Regions from separate parts of the Homo sapiens genome. Here region 2 is linked to region 1. A link means that fine-mapping ties the variant in region 1 to the expression of a gene that starts in the linked region. Tissue or cell type: whole blood. Region 1 holds a variant in brackets; the other region holds the start of a gene. All regions are shown on one strand. Distances are between the middles of the regions.

Region 1 (8,103 bases):
TTCAAAAAGAACAGGCTAGGGCAGGAGGATTGCTTGAGGCCAGGAGTTGGAGCCCAGCTTGGGCAGCATAGCAAGGCTCCTATCTCTACAAATACACACACACACACACACACACACACACACACACACACACACATACACTTTAATTAGCCAGGCATGGTGACGCATGCCTGTAGTCCCAGCTACTCGGGAGGCTGAGGAGGGAAGACTGCTTGAGCCAAGGAGTTCGAGGCTGCAATAAGCTATGATCATGCCACTGCACTCCAGCCTGAGCAACAGTGAGACCCCATATCTAAAATAAATTTAAAATGGTAATAATAAAGGAAAGAAAAAGGCCGGAGACTCATGCCTGGAATCCCAGCACTTTGGGACGCCGGGGTGGGCGGATCACCTGAGTTCGGGAGTTCGAGACCAGCCTGACCAACGCAGAGAAAACCCATCTCTACTAAAAATACAAAATTAGCCAGGCATGGTGGCATGTGCCTATAATCCCAGCTACTTGGGAGGCTGAGGCAGGAGAACTGCTTGAACCTGGGAGGCGGAGGTTGCGGTGAGCTGAGATAGCGCCACTGCACTCCAGCCTGGGCAAGAGTGAAACTCCATCTCAAAAAAAAAAAAAACAAAAAACAGAAAAGAAAGAAAAATGCTTCTTCGTCATTACCACAGTACTAAGACTTTTGTTTCAGGGACACTAATCCCATAGATAACAGTCCAGGCATCATGAGGTTTTTACATGAGCTAAAAACGTCATCAGCTTCTACCCACCAGATTTCACAAGAGTGTGACTATGGGAATGCGGAGTCAGGGGCACTCCAGCTACCCTGGAAGAATGGTTTTCAAGTCTCTGTTACATAGTTCACTAGGGCCAAAGGGAGAACCGTGTTGATGCCTATGCCTAAAATAGTTTTCCATTCCAGATAAAAATGCCTGATTTGCCTTTAAAAAACTAAAAAAGGAAATAATAATATAAAAGGAAAGATCTTAGTAATGAAAGGAAACAGGAACTGAAGAATCACAAATGCTAGCCAGAAAAAAGTAAGAATTGTTGCTTGAACCCTATAATCTGTTATCTACCCATTAATGAATGCAAACCAATTAAATGCAGTTGCCCCAGCTAAAGAATTTACAAGCAAGCAGTTTTCATATTTGAAATTCTAAAATACTGCTTTGGAGATAATGTATAGCTTTTAGGATTGCTAATGGAAGAGTCAGGCTGCTCTCAATGAGCGCATTGTCCACACCAAGAAGGGCCAGTCCCGCAGGGAACAGAAGTTCTGAATTTAATCCTAATTGAATTTGAGTAGGGGCTCTGGTATGTAAGGCATGAGAGTGAACATAAGACAATGAAAATAAAATGGTGTCACTACAACTTGACCTTTTGCACTTGGCTTTGACAGATTCACAGTGTATTTGAATCCAAGGACCCTCACGCGTTTTCTGGAAGTTTGTGAATGTGCTCTGAGCCGGGCCGTCAGCCCCCTGCTGCCAACCCCATACACATGTCAGCCCCTGTATCTCTCAGAATATTGATTTCCTGTCTACAAGTATGGGCTTAAACTGAGTACTTCAAAGTCCCTCTCCCTGGAAACAGGATCAGGCATCTCTATCTCTATTGCCTTCTCCCCCAGACCGGAGTCCGTCAGTACCAATCGTGAAGCCAAAGCACTGAGAGTTCTGGTGGTTTACCTGGACTTTCCTGGAGAAATAAACAGCCTCAGGTCCAATTCTGGGGATGCCAGAGCCCCAGGCTGCCCCAGAAACAGGGCAAAAGAGAAAAATCACAAATTGGTTCAAATTCAACCAATGCAGCCAAGGGTCAGTGAGCTGCCAACCCTGGTCTGGTGAACGGAGCCAGGCTGCCGAGCCTGTGTGGCCACTACCAACACGGGCCTGACATCATCAGGGCTGGGGGCACGGGTTCAAGCCTGAGGAAGGAGCCCAGCCTTCCGCCAGACTCTCCCGCCTTTTTGCCTGGGCTGTCTCCAGGCCAAGCAGACGGGAGGATGGGTGAGTGACCGGAGCCTGGGGCTCTAGGTTCGACTTGTCCAGGAATTATTACTCGTCTATGTAGCAAATCCGTAAGTGATCTGCTCAGCTTTATGTCACCAACACATACAGACGAAGAGGTCAATTACCCCTGGTGGTGAGGGAAACCTGAATCTGTAAGAACGCCTCCAATGTCTGATCAGCCACACTGTTGGACAAACTACTGAAATGCAGCAAAACTGACCAGGACTTTAACCGTGAGTTCAGAGCAGCCAGAAATGAAGACGCCCTGCTCACTGCAGACAGGGCCCTGGGGAGGCAGGTCCCACCACCCCACCTCTACACAGACACAGGGCCCCGGGGAGGCAGGTCCCACCACCCCACCTCTACACAGACACAGGGCCCCGGGGAGGCAGGTCCCACCCGCCCCACCTCTACGCAGACACAGGGCCCCGGGGAGGCAGGTCCCACCCGCCCCACCTCTACGCAGACACAGGGCCCCGGGGAGGCAGGTCCCACCCGCCCCACCTCTACGCAGACACAGGGCCCCGGGGAGGCAGGTCCCACCCGCCCCACCTCTACGCAGACACAGGGCCCCGGGGAGGCAGGTCCCACCCGCCCCACCTCTACGCAGACACAGGGCCCTAGGGAAGTAGGTCCCACCCGCCCCACCTCTACACAGACACAGGACCCTGGGGAAGTAGGTCCCACCCGCCCCACCTCTACACAGACACAGGACCCTGGGGAAGTAGGTCCCACCCGCCCCACCTCTACACAGACACAGGACCCTGGGGAAGTAGGTCCCACCCGCCCCACCTCTACAGACACAGGACCCTGGGGAAGTAGGTCCCACCCGCCCCACCTCTACACAGACACAGGACCCTGGGGAAGTAGGTCCCACCCGCCCCACCTCTACGCAGACACAGGGCCCTAGGGAAGTAGGTCCCACCCGCTCCACCTCTACACAGACACAGGACCCTGGGGAAGTAGGTCCCACCCACCCCACCTCTACACAGACACAGGGCCCTCAGGAGGCAGGTCCCACCAGGTTTGTTTCTCGAATTTACAGATCTAAAAACACAATTGTGTCTGTTCACCTAAAGAGCTAATTCCACTCACTTTATGAGGTTTAAGTTCTGTCTAAACAAGAGAAATGGAAGCCAGAACAGGACTTCGTAATTTATAGCAGGGAATGAGCTGTTAACTTCCACGATCCCGTCCTGTATCAAGGATAGGAAGCGCTGCATTAGCTATGGGAAGAAGCATGGCCAGCACAGTGTGAGTCCTCAGGGTTTATTATGCTCGTGCAGGCTTCCCTTTCCCATGTTTTACAGGAGGAGGAACTGAGGCACAGATGGAGAAGGAGGTGGGCAACAGACACAGGAGCGGTGGAGCCCTGAGAAGCACGCTGGCAACAGGCACCCCAGGGAGTCTGGTCTAACCACCCCCAGAGGCAGAGGAAGGGGCCTAGGGCCCCTTTGAGGTGGGCTGCTGGGCAGGAGAAAAGCCTGCCTCCACCCTGTGATCCCACAGAGCACAGGCATTTGCAGAATGCAGCCACCTTCCCAGGAGCTCCAAATTTTACGCAGAGAACTATCCTGGAAGTGCCGGCTAATTCGCTGGGCAGGGACTGCAGAGCGTTCTGGTAAACAGCCCCCACTCTAGAGACAGACTACATTCAAATCCCCACCGTGTGACCTTGGGCAAGTCACTTAGACATGCGGTACCTCAGTTTCCCCGTCACTAAAATGTGGGTTACACCTGCCAAAGGGTGGCTGAGAAAGCAGAATCTGCACACAGGT[G/A]AACTGGCTGGAGCTGCACCCAGCACATTAGGCCCTGTAATAGAAGTGCTTGTTCCATAAATCGTGAGATTCCTCCCAAACCTAAGGATGGATGCCACCGTCCCAGGGCTGCCCATGTCCCGGGTCTCATCATCCCTCCATTTACACACCACCTCCTGGGGCCGACTGGGCGCTTTTGCAGTGGACCAATCTTCTACGTTTCTTATTCTCAGATGATGACCTTCTCCCTGGTCCTGGGGGTGCTCCGGATGTTGCCAGATCAGTGGAGCTGACATGGCCCAGGGTTCAGGCAGAAGGGGAAGGGAAGTCAGCACCCACAGTAATCCTGATTCACTGTTGCGGAACCAAAAACTGCCCAAGTGCTTTCCATTTCACTCTTCAGCCTTCCCAAAGCCAAACACAGCCAGGCTTCTACCCCAAGTGTTGTGTCGTTTTCACTATTGGTTTAAATAAGAGTGGGTTGAGATAGCCATCAGAAGCCACGGACACCCTTGGCTCACATCTTAAGCATGGGGTGGGGAGACTTAAAAAATACTGATGCTCAGACCCTGACCCAGCTGCCAGGGCAAGAGTGGGGCTGGCATTTGTATCAGCTTTAAAAGCGCCCCAGGTGAATACCAGGTGCACCAGGAGTGAAAATCAGCAATTTACCCAGTGAAAGTGGGAAATAAAAGGGCAGCTATTGAAATGTAAGAATTAGAAAGCTTGGTATTTCAATTCATTGAAAAGTGAGCCCTACCAGGAAATGCAAACACTGAGACAACAGGAACTTTCATTATTTATTTATTTACTTTTTCTTGAGACAGAGTCTTGCTCTGTTGCCCAGGCTGGAGTGCAGTGATGCAATCTCAGCTCACTGCAAACTCCACGTCCAGGGTTCAAGCAATTCTCCTGCCTAAGCCTCCCTAGTAGCTGGGATTACAGGCACACACCACCAAGCCCAGCTAATTTTTGTACTATTAGTAGGGACAGGGTTTCACCATGTTGGCCAGGCTGGTCTCAAACTCCTGACCTCAAGTGATCCACCCACCTTGGACTCCCAAAATGCTGGGATTACAGGCGCGAGGCACCACGCCCAGCCTATTTAATTATTATTTTTTTGAGACAGAGTCTTGCTCTGTCACCCAGGCTGAAGTGCAGTGGTACGATCATGGCTCAATGCAGCCTCCATCTTCTGGGCTTAAGTGTTCCTCCCAACTCAGCCTCCCGAGTAGCTGGGACCACAGGTGCATACCACTACACCCAGCTAATTTCTTTTATGTTTGTGTAGAGATGGGGACTTACTATGCTACCCAGGCTGGTCTTGAACTCCTGGGTTCATGCTATATTCCCAACTTGGCCTCCCAAAGTGCTGGGGTCACAGGCATGAGCCACTGTGCCCAGCGGAGAACAGAAACTTTTAAGATGAGTTCTCTGCCTTGCCAGATCGGACAGCCCCCTGGCAGGGAGCTCACAAAACATCGATGTGACAACCTGAGGAAAGGAAAAGTGCATATTCCCAGACCAGAGATGGGAGCAAAATAAGCAACTCCAGCAATGGCACCAGCAGCAGCGCAGCCTAGAGGAGCTGTGACACACTTCCCATCAGAGATTGTTCAAAAACACCACGACATGCTTTCTCCAGTGTTTGCAGGTTGCATCCACAAATACGAGCCAAAAGGTTATTTTAGTTCTATTTTGTAAAGTTGATGAGTTTTGGCTAAAGTTGAGAGTCATGGGACCATCTCCACAGGCATGATCTACATTCCCTCTAGGTTTGTTTTTTTAAAACCGATAGTGAACTTGGTTAAATAATGGTGCGTGGAGGCCAGGCACAGTGGTTCATACCTGTAATCCTAGCACTTCAGAAGGCTGATGTGGGAGGATCCCTTGAGCCCCTGAGTTTGAGACCAGCCTGGGTGACACAGTGAGTCCCTATCTCTACAAAAAAAAATTTAAAAATGAGCTGGGTATGATGGTATGTGCCTGTAGTCCCAGCTACTCTGAGGAGGCTGAGGCAGGAGGATCGCTTAAGCCCAGGAGGTTGGGCTGCAGTGAGCTGGGATACTGCCACTGCACTCTAGCCCGGGCAGCAGAGCAAGACCCTATCTCAAAAAGAGAGAATGGGATGTGGAAGCAACCATCCCCTCAGGAGCATTAGAAAAGAATAAATAATTGACTACTATAACCAACACTGTATTCAATTGTTTGTTGATTTTAGTGCAGTAAGGAAGGCCCACAAGAGTCCCTGGGTGCATGAATGGAGCTGGGCTGCCTGGAGCCAGCACAGGGCCTGGCTGGACACACCTGCCCCCACCAGTACGTGGAAAGTGGAGAGCTAGCAGGCAAGGGCCCCACGCAGTGGGCAGGCCCTCCCCCCAGAACCCACATGCACCAAAGCCTCCAGAGAGCCAATGGCTTGCCAGCCTCCACCCACCGTGATGGGGAACTGTATCTGGTCGGGCCCCGGTGCCCAGCAGTTTGGTCCTGCACTAGCCTGGACATGGCTGGGAAGGTGTTTTTTAGGTGGGATCAGCATTTACATCAGTGGATGTGAGAAAGCAGACAGTGCTCTGTGATGTGGTAGGCCTCGTCTAATCAGCTGATGGCCTGAGAAGTAAAGACTGAGCTCTTCCAGACACGAAGGAATTCAGCCCCCAGACAGCAACAAAGCAACCTTGCCTGAGCTCACACACCCTCTGTCAGGTCTGTTTCTCTGGGGAAGCCTGGCTGCCTTATTCACGTGGACTGCTCACTTGCTTCCCTGGGATGGAGGCTGTCTGCAAAGCTGAGGCTCTCCAGAGAGGCCTGTACAGCTCCCCCATTTTCAGGCTGTCCCCTGAGGCCGAGCCCCTACAAAGAGGTGCTGCCACCGTGATGTACGAGTGTGCCGGTCAAGGGTGCCGACCACGCCCCGACCCCTGCCTTGCCCCTCAGCCAAACAAATGTCCAGGGCAGGGGAAGTGGCATGACAGGGGCTTTTCAGAAAACTGCAAGGATCACTTTGACCCAAACTGGTCACTTCTTCATTGAGGGTTCCTTGCCCGGGCAGTTATCTTTCCAAATGCTGATCCAATATGAACACCCTCTACTGTGCACCCCAGGGGGCTTCCTAGCAGGCTTCAAAAGAGTGTGAACTCCACAAAACTGGACCTCATCATAAATGCACAAGTCCTCTCCTGCCAGCTGTTCAGCAACTAAACAGTAAAATAGGAAAAATATGATTTCCAAAACGAAGAGCAGAAGACATATCCAGCAATATTTTTTTGTGGAAACAGAGACAGGGTCTCGCTCTGTCACCCAGGCTGGAGTGCAGTGGCTCAATCATGGCTCACTGCAACCTCATCCTCCTGGGCTCAAGCGATCCTCCCACCTCAGCCTCCCAAGCAGGTGGGACTACAGGTGTGTACCACCACGCCTGGCTAATTTTTTAATTTTTAGTAGAGATGAGGTCTCACTAAGTTGCCCAGCCTGGTCTCAAACTCCTGAGCTCAAGTGATCCCCCCGCTTTGCCCTTCTAAAGTGCTGGGATTACAGGCCTGAGCCACCACGCCCAGCCCAGGAACATCTTTTACTGGCAGAGATGGAGAATGTAGTGAGAAATTTAAATTCAGAATTCTTCCTCATTTTGAAAAGCACACATCTCACCTAGAACTAGCCACATCTCTAAGTCCAAGCCACGTGTGGCCAGTGGCTACCATGCTGGATGGCACAGAGCAGACTCTGCTCAGAGCCGGAGACCCCCAACCCGAACCCACCCTGAACACCAGGTACAGTTCCTGGACCACAGCAGACACTCACGGGCTGCTTGGAACAGGCATGAAGGAGGCGTGAAGTTACAGAAACGAATAAATAACACATGAGGCTAATTCATACAACCACTTCGTGGGTCACGTCTTCATGGATCCTTAAACCACTCTGGGAAGTCTCTGTTTTCCATTTTCGCAGATCTACAAGTCAAGGCTCAGAGACTCTACTGGCGAGATTGGAACCCATTCCCTAGATTCCACCTCTCCTCCTCCTGCCTGCTCTGAGTGCCTCACAGCTTGGGCCCTTCCATTAAATGCCTGTGCAGTGACTAACTTTTCACAGGCAGCCGTGAAGCACCGCACACACCCGGCACGCTGGGCCCAGGCCTTCCACGCAGTGGCTGGCCCAGCGCCTCTGAGCGCCCACTGGACCACACCATGCTCTCAGCCCAGCAGCAGTACCCAAAGCTCCGGCCGCGCAAGGCCTTCCAACACAGAAATGGATTTCATTTCTCTCCTTGAAGGTGAACCAGAGGGCAGGAAACAGCACTTTCTGTTTAAAAATGGAATCATAAATGTATTATTAT
Region 2 (8,103 bases), 30 kb after region 1:
CTGGAGAGGAGGCCCTGGTGTGGCCACATAACCTTCTGCTGGTGCCTCAGAAGGACCCAAAGGCCAGAGGACTCTCAAGAGACCAAGATGTCTCATCTTTGCGGTGGCCACTATTCTGTCTGTCACAGCCTGGCTTCAGGCTCCCACAGACGTGCATCCATTCCACATGCAAAATGCACTCACTCTCTCCAACACCCAGTCCCCAGAGACGCAGCTGGAGCTGGATGCCGGCACAGGGAAGTGGCGCAAGTCTGGGCTCCCCGCCGCCTTCCAAGCTGGCTCTTCAAGGGCCAGGTGCTGGGGATGCAAACGTGAGTCAGGTAATGCCCCTGCTCCCCCCGCCTCCCGGCCGCCAGGCCACGGCCTTTAGAAGGGAAGGAAAACAAATGTGGAGAGCATTCTGTCTCCAGGGCTCTGGGGACCAGGTCTGTGCTGGGCACACCAGCCGCTTTCTCATCAGCCTGTCGTATTTTCTTCAGAGCAACGATCAGATGTGAAGCTGTACCATTCACTTCTTGCCTGCCTTTCCCCCTCCTCTGGAATCCAGGGCCTGCGGGGCAGCGGCCAGCCGGCCTGCTCACTGCTGTAGAACGAGGGCCCAAACAGTGCCCGGCACCGGGGAGCCTCAGTTTATATTTGCCAACAACAGGCAACACCACTTTAGGCTGTCCTGAGCAACCGGGCAACACAGAGGAGCACAGCAGTACGTCTTCTAGGGCTCTGCCTCCTCGCTGGGCAACCTCCTTTTGCTTCCTGGATGTACCCACCCATGCACAGCAACCACTCCACATCTGTGTGCCCAATTAGACAAGGGCTGGGAGTGGCAAGTGCCCCCTAAAAGGGCATAATGAGACAAGGTGAGTTGGAGTTGGATGAACCAAGGTCTAAATCCCACTTAACTTCTGCTGTCTTCCCACTTTTTTTTTTTTTTTTTTTTGAGACAGAGTCTTACTCTTGTCACCCAGGCTGGAGTGCAATGGCGCAATCTTGGCTCACTGCAACCTCCGCCTCCAGGGTTCAAGCGATTCTCCTGCCACAGCCTCCCAAGTAGCTAGGATTACAGGCGCCAGCCACCACACCCAGCTAATTTTTGTATTTTTAGTAGACACGGGTTCACCACATTAACCAGGCTGGTCTTGAACTCCTGACCTTAGGTGATCTGCCCGCCTCACCCTCCTAAAGTGCTGGGATTACAGGCATGAGCCACCGCGCAGCCCTGTCTTCCCATCTGTTTTTTTTTTTTTTTTTTTTTTTGAGACAGAGTCTCGCTCTGTCACCGGGTTGGAGTGCAGTGGCACAATCTTGGCTCACTGCAACCTCTGCCTCCTGGTTCAAGCGATTCTCCTGCCTCAGCCTCCCGAGTAGCTGGGACTACAGGTGTGCGCCACCACGCCCTGCTAACTTTTGTATGTTTAGTAGAGATGGGGTTTCACCATGTTAGCCAGGATGGTCTTGATCTCTTGACCTCGTGATCCACCCACCTCAGCCTCCCAAAGTGCTGGGATTACAGGCATGAGCCACCACGCCTGGCCCCATCTTTAACATGCAAATAATCACACCTCCCTCTGGAGGACTGTTGTGTCAATGGAATAGGGTAATGTACTTCTGCCCTGCCAACTCTCTTCCCCCTCTTCAGCTCCATCCACTGCCTGCCTTGCAGGCTACAAGCAGCCAGGCATTGGGTGTACACTGACCCCCATGCAATCGTTTTTACTATTAAACATCCTGTCGCCCTCTGCACACCTGCACCCCCACCCCAGCCCACCCTGCCTTGTGTGGCTAAAAGCAACTTTCAAAATGGTTCCTCCTCCGGCTGGTCCTTACCATTCTGCCTCGGTTATGACAATTACAACAAAAACAACTTGAAAAGCAATGTCTGTGGGGTGGAGAGAAAGTTTAGGAGCTCAGCAAAAGAAGGAAAAGAACAGGGTCCCCTAAATGTTAAATTCTGAATTTCCAACAATTATAGAAAAGGTATCTGTTCCTACCTCTCTTTTCCCTTCAAGTACCCGGTCAGGCCACAGGCCACCGAGGAGGCAGGCAAGGGTGCCCTGTGTCCCTGCCAACTCTGGGCAAGGGCCGCCTGAGTGTGTACACAGGAAGTCAGGAATGTGGAGAAGGGGCCTGGCCACTCTCTGTTCTGAGGAGCTCTAGTAATTCACCCTTAGGATCTTTCGAACAAGCAGCAGCAGCCTCGGATGCCAGGAAATGAGCTGCTGCCCCCCAGTAACGCTTCAAGACATCTGGGGCGTCACATCAGCACAACTGCAAAATCTCTGGTGATCAGGATTCCGGCTGCATCACGTCCTTGGTGCTGAAGAAGCAAGAGGCCAGTGGAAACGAAACTGCTGCTTCATTCCCTCCGATGCAGGGGCCGTTCCAGCACTGCAGGGCAGCTCTTGTTCCAGAAACACACCGTGTGTTAAGAGTCTGCCTCCAACGGTGGCCACTACAGGGGTTTCGGTTAGGGTCCCCCAATAACACTCCTGCATTAACCTTGCTACTTGTAAACCAAGGGCAGCAGTAAATCCCAGCCAACCAGCAAAAGCAGCAGAGGGGCAAAGCTTTGTACAAAACCAAATTGGGTTCAATTTGACTTTGTACAGAAGCAAATTGGGTTCGTGAATTGGGTTCGATTTGACTTCTAGAGCGTGTGTTCCATCGTTACCAAATGCTCAGTGTGAGGGAGTCAGCTCAGTAAACCTCATCCTGCAGCCTGAGGCAGAAGACAGAGTTGGAGCAAAGATCAGGGAAATGCACCTCTTTACCTGGGGGACATTGTTTTCACAAGATGATTGCCAATAAATTAGTCACGATGTTAACTGGGATAATAATAAAAAAGCATCAAAGAAGGCAAAAGGGAGGGGGAGAACTGGAAGTACCTCTGTGAGCTTCGTTAATTCAGTTTTAAAGAGAGAATTCATTATCATCTTGTTTATTCAGCATACTGATACACCCAAGATGGCAATTTAAGAATTCTGGACGGGGCCTTTGGGTATATGACTTTTTAAGATGCTAACATAAAAGAAGTCAGAACTTTCAGAGTTTCAGGCTTCTAAAAACTCACACTCATTGAAAATGTGTCACACTATTTCCAGTTTCTTCATTCACTTACAATATCTTATTCTTTTGTAAGGAGAAGGAAATATATTCCATTGCAATGCTACAATCACCAGTGTTATTTTCCAAAGTTAAACAGAAAGCCTGAATTGAGATCCTCTAAGTTGTACTTTTGAAAAGTCACAAATACTACACAATAAAAATAACTCATTACCTATCTTAAAAATGCTTCCACCGGAAGTCACTCCAACCCAAACCCATATGACGTATCTGAGCCAAGATCAAGCAGAAGATTAACTGTAAAAGGCAGATATGCTCCGGGCTAAGAGGTCCGGAGGCTCCAGTTTTATTTCCTCTCTCCTGACTAAACCCAACAGGGGGGAACACTCTGTGCCTCATTTTACTTTTTCTTAGAAAGGGGCTAATAACACCAGCTCTGCTCACCCCTCAAGTGAATCTCAAAGGATATCATGTTCCTACGGGTACGTGAAAACTGAAAATACCTAACAAAGCAGCCACAGAGGAGCGTCTCTGGTTCCCAGGGCGGCAGAGCAGGAACGCGGGGCTCGGGAGCAAAGGCAGCTTAGGTACACAAATGACCAGCGGGTTCTCTGCAACTTGGGTTGTCCCTGAGGTCACTGAGTGGCTGAGAGGCAGCGCTCAGCCCAACCAGCAAGGGAGGACGAGTGGGAAACCCCGAGAAGGAGGCATTTGCTGTCCGAGGCCGGGACCCTGTGCGCGGCCGGGTGCCCTGCTGGAAGCCCCGCGCCCCCCGTCCCCGGCGGAGCCCCAGGGCGGTGTGGCTCATGCGGCGCCGGCCTCACCTGCGGTGTCCCAGATGGAGATGTTGTAGGAGCGCCACTGCTTCAGGTAGAAGGCGCCGCCCACCGTGCTGACCGTGTCCGGGAAGCGCCGCTCCATATACCGCTGCAGCAGCGACGTCTTCCCCACGTTCATGTCCCCCAGGAGCACGATCTTGCTGTCGGGCTTCCTCATCTTCCCGTAAGAACCCCCAGCGCCCCCGCGCCCTCTCCCCGAGGCTGGCCGGCTCGTGCGCCCTGGGCGCAGCTGGAGGAGCGGACCCCGGACTCGCCGGGACCCGGATTCTCGTGAACGCTCCGGGACCTTCGCCTCCGGACGCCCGGGAGCTCAAGAGAGGAAGCGCGTGTGCGCGCCCGGGAAGGAGCTGGGTGCAGAGCACGGAGCCCACGTCGGGGGCCCGGACCGCGGCGGCCTCGCCTCGCCCCGCCCCCGCCCCCGCCCCCGGGCCCTTTCACCGCCGCGGCCCCGCCCTATCCTCCTCCGCCCACCGCCCCCGTCCCGCCCCTGCTGGACCTCGCCGTTTCGCAAGCATCCGAGTTCTCCAGCCGAGGCTCGGGACTGCTGCAGGGTGGAAAATGAAAGTTCTGAGAGCACCTTCCGCCCCTCCGCTTCTGCACAGCCGGGGCTGCGGTGCGAGGAGCTTGGCCGCGGGGCCCGAACGAGGCGAAGGGGCCGGGGCCCTTGGGGAACCCCCTTCTCTCTTCCACTCTCCCTTAGGTAAAACCCGTGTTCCTCTCACGCTCGACCCAGCGCCTTTCCAGCTGCGGTCGATTTGCTTCTCCGCGTGTAAGTACAGCCACCCTCAAGGTCATTGAAAAAGTTTGCTTTAAATGAGCGTCTGCGGAACTCGTCCTGAGGCTCTCACTGTTACAGATTAGAGATGGGGGCGCTTTCTAGTGGAGGATTTTGCTTTTGCTCTTCTACTTTTGCAAGAAGCTTTTTGTCCTGAAAAGTGGACAGTCATCTCCATTTATAGCTTGGAATGAAAATTTGACTATGGAAGTTGCAGTCGCTACTTGAGAAATATTTCCTCCTTCTTTTTTTTTTTTTTTTTTTATTTTTGACACGGAGTTTTGCTGTTGTTGCCCAAGCTGGAGAGCAGTGCGCGATCTCGGCTCACTGCAACCTCCGCCTTCCGGTTTCAAGCGATTCTCCTGCCTCAGCCTCCCGAGTAGGCGGGATTACAGGTATGTGCCACCATGCCCGGCTAATTTTTGTATTTTTAGTAGACACGGGGTTTCACCATGTTGGCCAGGCTGGTCTCGAACTCCTGACCTCGTGATCCACCCGCTTCGGCCTCCCAGGTCCTCCTTCCGTTTTAAAGGATAAACCTTGAAATGCTTTTAAAATATGCAGCGTGTAGAATTTGGTTAGTTGGTTGGTTGGGGTTTTTTAGAGAAAATGAGAGGTAGAATGGACTCTAAGTTAAACCCTGGGGGACAGTGTCACTCTGGCCGCTGGCCTGGCTGGGAAAGGCGATGAGACCCTGAGCAGGTTAAAACCCGTGTCCTGAAGGTGTCCTGTAAAGGGAAATAGGCCCGTTGCCTCCTTCGTAGGTGCCCTGAGACTCCGACAAGGCAGGAATGCCAAGGTATTTCGTACCTGCTCAGCCCTGGCATGTCAGGTTGCTGAGACCGAGCAGTGTGGGGCTGAGGTGGAAGCGGACCTTCTGGGGCGTGGAAAGCGCACCAGGAGACCCCGGCTCCTTCTCAGCCAGCACTGCCTCATCCTCAGAACAAATTTAAGTCAATTCAGCATTTATTCAATGCCTGTTGCATGCAAGTGACAACCTAAATAACAGAGAGGATCTCTAAAAGAAACAGATATTTATTTTGCAATAGAGCTTTGCAGTAGAAATATGCATGCCATGGTAAACTTGTGCATATTCAGAGAGGCAAGGAAAGCAAAGGCTTTAAAAAAAATGAGGCGGATTGCACAATTGTTTGAAAATAATTATCTGTGGCTACAAAGATCCATAACGAAGGCGATGCCAGTTCAAAGTAGGACAGCCAGTGGCTGGGCCATGTCCTTGCAGGACTAGTTTTTTGTGGGAGATTGCAGTGGCCTTTGTGCAAGGTTGCGGTTTTTCCAGAGAGTCCTTTTTGTTATCAGGCATGCACGCGCAAGAACCCTCTCTTCATGGCCTTCCCCGGCTCTGTTTGTCAGGGTTTTCTTAACATTAGCGGCTCCATTTCGATTCTGACAATTTTCACACAAGCTACAGTGCCTGGCCTGGGACGACACAAACATGAGTCAGGTTTGGTGCCTGTTGGCCAGGCGCAGTGGCACACACCTGTAATCCCACCACTCTGAGAGGCCGAGGCAGATGGATCCTTTGAGCCCAGGAGTTCAAGATTAGCCTGGCAACATAGGGAGACCCCCGTCTCTATGAAAATTACAGAAAAAATTTGCCATGCATGGTGGTGTGCACCTGTAGTCCTAGTCCAAAGTTGCTTTGACTATTCTGGAACATTTACACTTCCATATGAATTCTGGAATCAATGTATCTAACCTCAGGAAACACATTAATGACATATATAGTTAAATTTAGGAAGAGTGGATATCTTTATAATATTAAAATGTCCCATTTATGAACATGGTATACCTCTCCATTTATTCAGCGGGTGTTCAAGGCTCACCTAGAATTTTTACACTTCTTTCTACTTTTTTACCATCAGGAAGTTTAATCACTTCCTGGAGCATGCTTTTTGATTCTCCAAATTTTACCCCCTGTCTGCTTCTCTCACCTGAGCTCTTTGTCCATTTCTTCATCCACCTACTAAGCCTTTCTACATGGATGTCTCAATATGGCAACCCACCACATCGTTCATCTGCCCTTCTGTAAATGCAGAGTCATTCATTCTTTCACCTTCTTTATAACCATATCCAATTCATCACCAAGCCCAATGGATTTTCCCTTCTAAATAAATCCCTCTAACATCTTCTCTCTCTTTTCCCACAGACGCCCACTTGTCTGGAACCTTCTTACACCTAAATAGTTAGAATCCACTCCTATTTGGTCTCCTTAACTCCAAGCTCCTGCCGTCCCAATCACTGTCAGACTAACCTTTCATAACCACTGCTTTCTCTACCCAGAGACCTGCCACGGCTCCCTACTTTCTATCTCCACAAGTCCAAATCCTGCCCCCCGCCACACACACACACACACACTTACCACCCTTTTTACAGTAGCTCTCCCGCCTCCTTTAGCTCCTGTTGCCCTGTGTGTGGCTTATTTACAGGTTTGATGGTGCAGTTTCCTTCTCTAGGGTGTTAGCTCCATGGGGAAGCAGCTTCTTCTGTGTTGTTCACCACTGTGCCTGGTGAACACCACTGCACCTAGCACACAATGGGCACTGAAGAAGGCACTGAGTCGCAGAAGAATGAATGAATTCCCCTCCCTGGTGAGGCCAGAAGCAACATCCTGTAAGCATATCATGACCAGCTATTCTCCACTTCATTGCTCACTGAGTTTGCCCACTTGAAAAGCCCTCCAACCCCTCATCTGTGCAGGTTTGGAATTCTGTGCAGGACTCAGGGATTCCATGAGGTGCAGCCCAGGCACACCCCCTTCTAATCCTCTCCCTCTGGGGAGACCTTTCCTGCTCCTTCATATGAGTTTCTACCACCCTGCTGGCCTCTTCGATGCAGTTTAGCCCCTGACAATGACTAACGGACTCATTTGACTCTCATCATCTCTAGTAATTTAAAAATTCCCTAGGGTCAGGGAGCAGGTCCTAACCTCATTCAACACCTCACCCAGTGCCTTGTCCCTTTCTCAGCACATTCTTCTACTCAGTAAATGTTTGAAGAAGCCTCATGAGGGCAGGAATCTTTGTGTTTTGTTTCTCTTATGTCTCCCAAGTACCTGGCCCTGGAAGGCAATTGATGCTCAATCAATACACATTTTAATAAATTCGCTAGTGAACTGAAACACCACCTGAAACACTGCTGCTTTTAGAGTTTGTGGAGGGAGGGACTGTTCCCTGCACCTACCCCAGTGACTGGCACCTGGAATTCACCGAGCAAGTTGGTTGAAAAAGTTAAAGGAATTTTCCAGCACTTTGAAAACTAAACCAAGAGAATGTCTCCATATCAAATTTCAGCCACTCCTTATAAAAATGTCTTAAAGGCTGTAAATCACCGTATTCACCTGCAGGAAGCAGTGTTGAGGAAGGAGGTAGTATAGGGTTAAGGGTCTATTTAAACCAGCTGCTTAGG

The links. PIP is the estimated chance that this variant, and not a neighbour inherited with it, causes the effect.
Region 2: RAB20 starts here. The variant in region 1 is fine-mapped to the expression of RAB20 in whole blood (TOPMed, PIP 0.97).

What each region holds. Positions count from the first base shown.
Region 1 is chr13:110,527,808-110,535,910 of GRCh38, forward strand. The region is part of intron 1 of RAB20 (RAB20, member RAS oncogene family); the gene reads right to left. Among named protein-coding and RNA genes, the nearest start is that of COL4A2-AS1, 24 kb to the left of the region's middle. RefSeq lists enhancers at 2,951-3,567, 6,389-7,171. The variant G/A (reference allele first, on the strand shown) is at 3,789.
Region 2 is chr13:110,557,464-110,565,566 of GRCh38, forward strand. It overlaps RAB20 (RAB20, member RAS oncogene family), which reads right to left and starts at 4,259. Exons shown (of 2, transcript NM_017817.3): 1 at 3,885-4,259. The coding sequence starts at 4,056. RefSeq lists enhancers at 1-454, 455-977 and silencers at 3,819-3,878, 3,858-4,047, 3,939-4,388.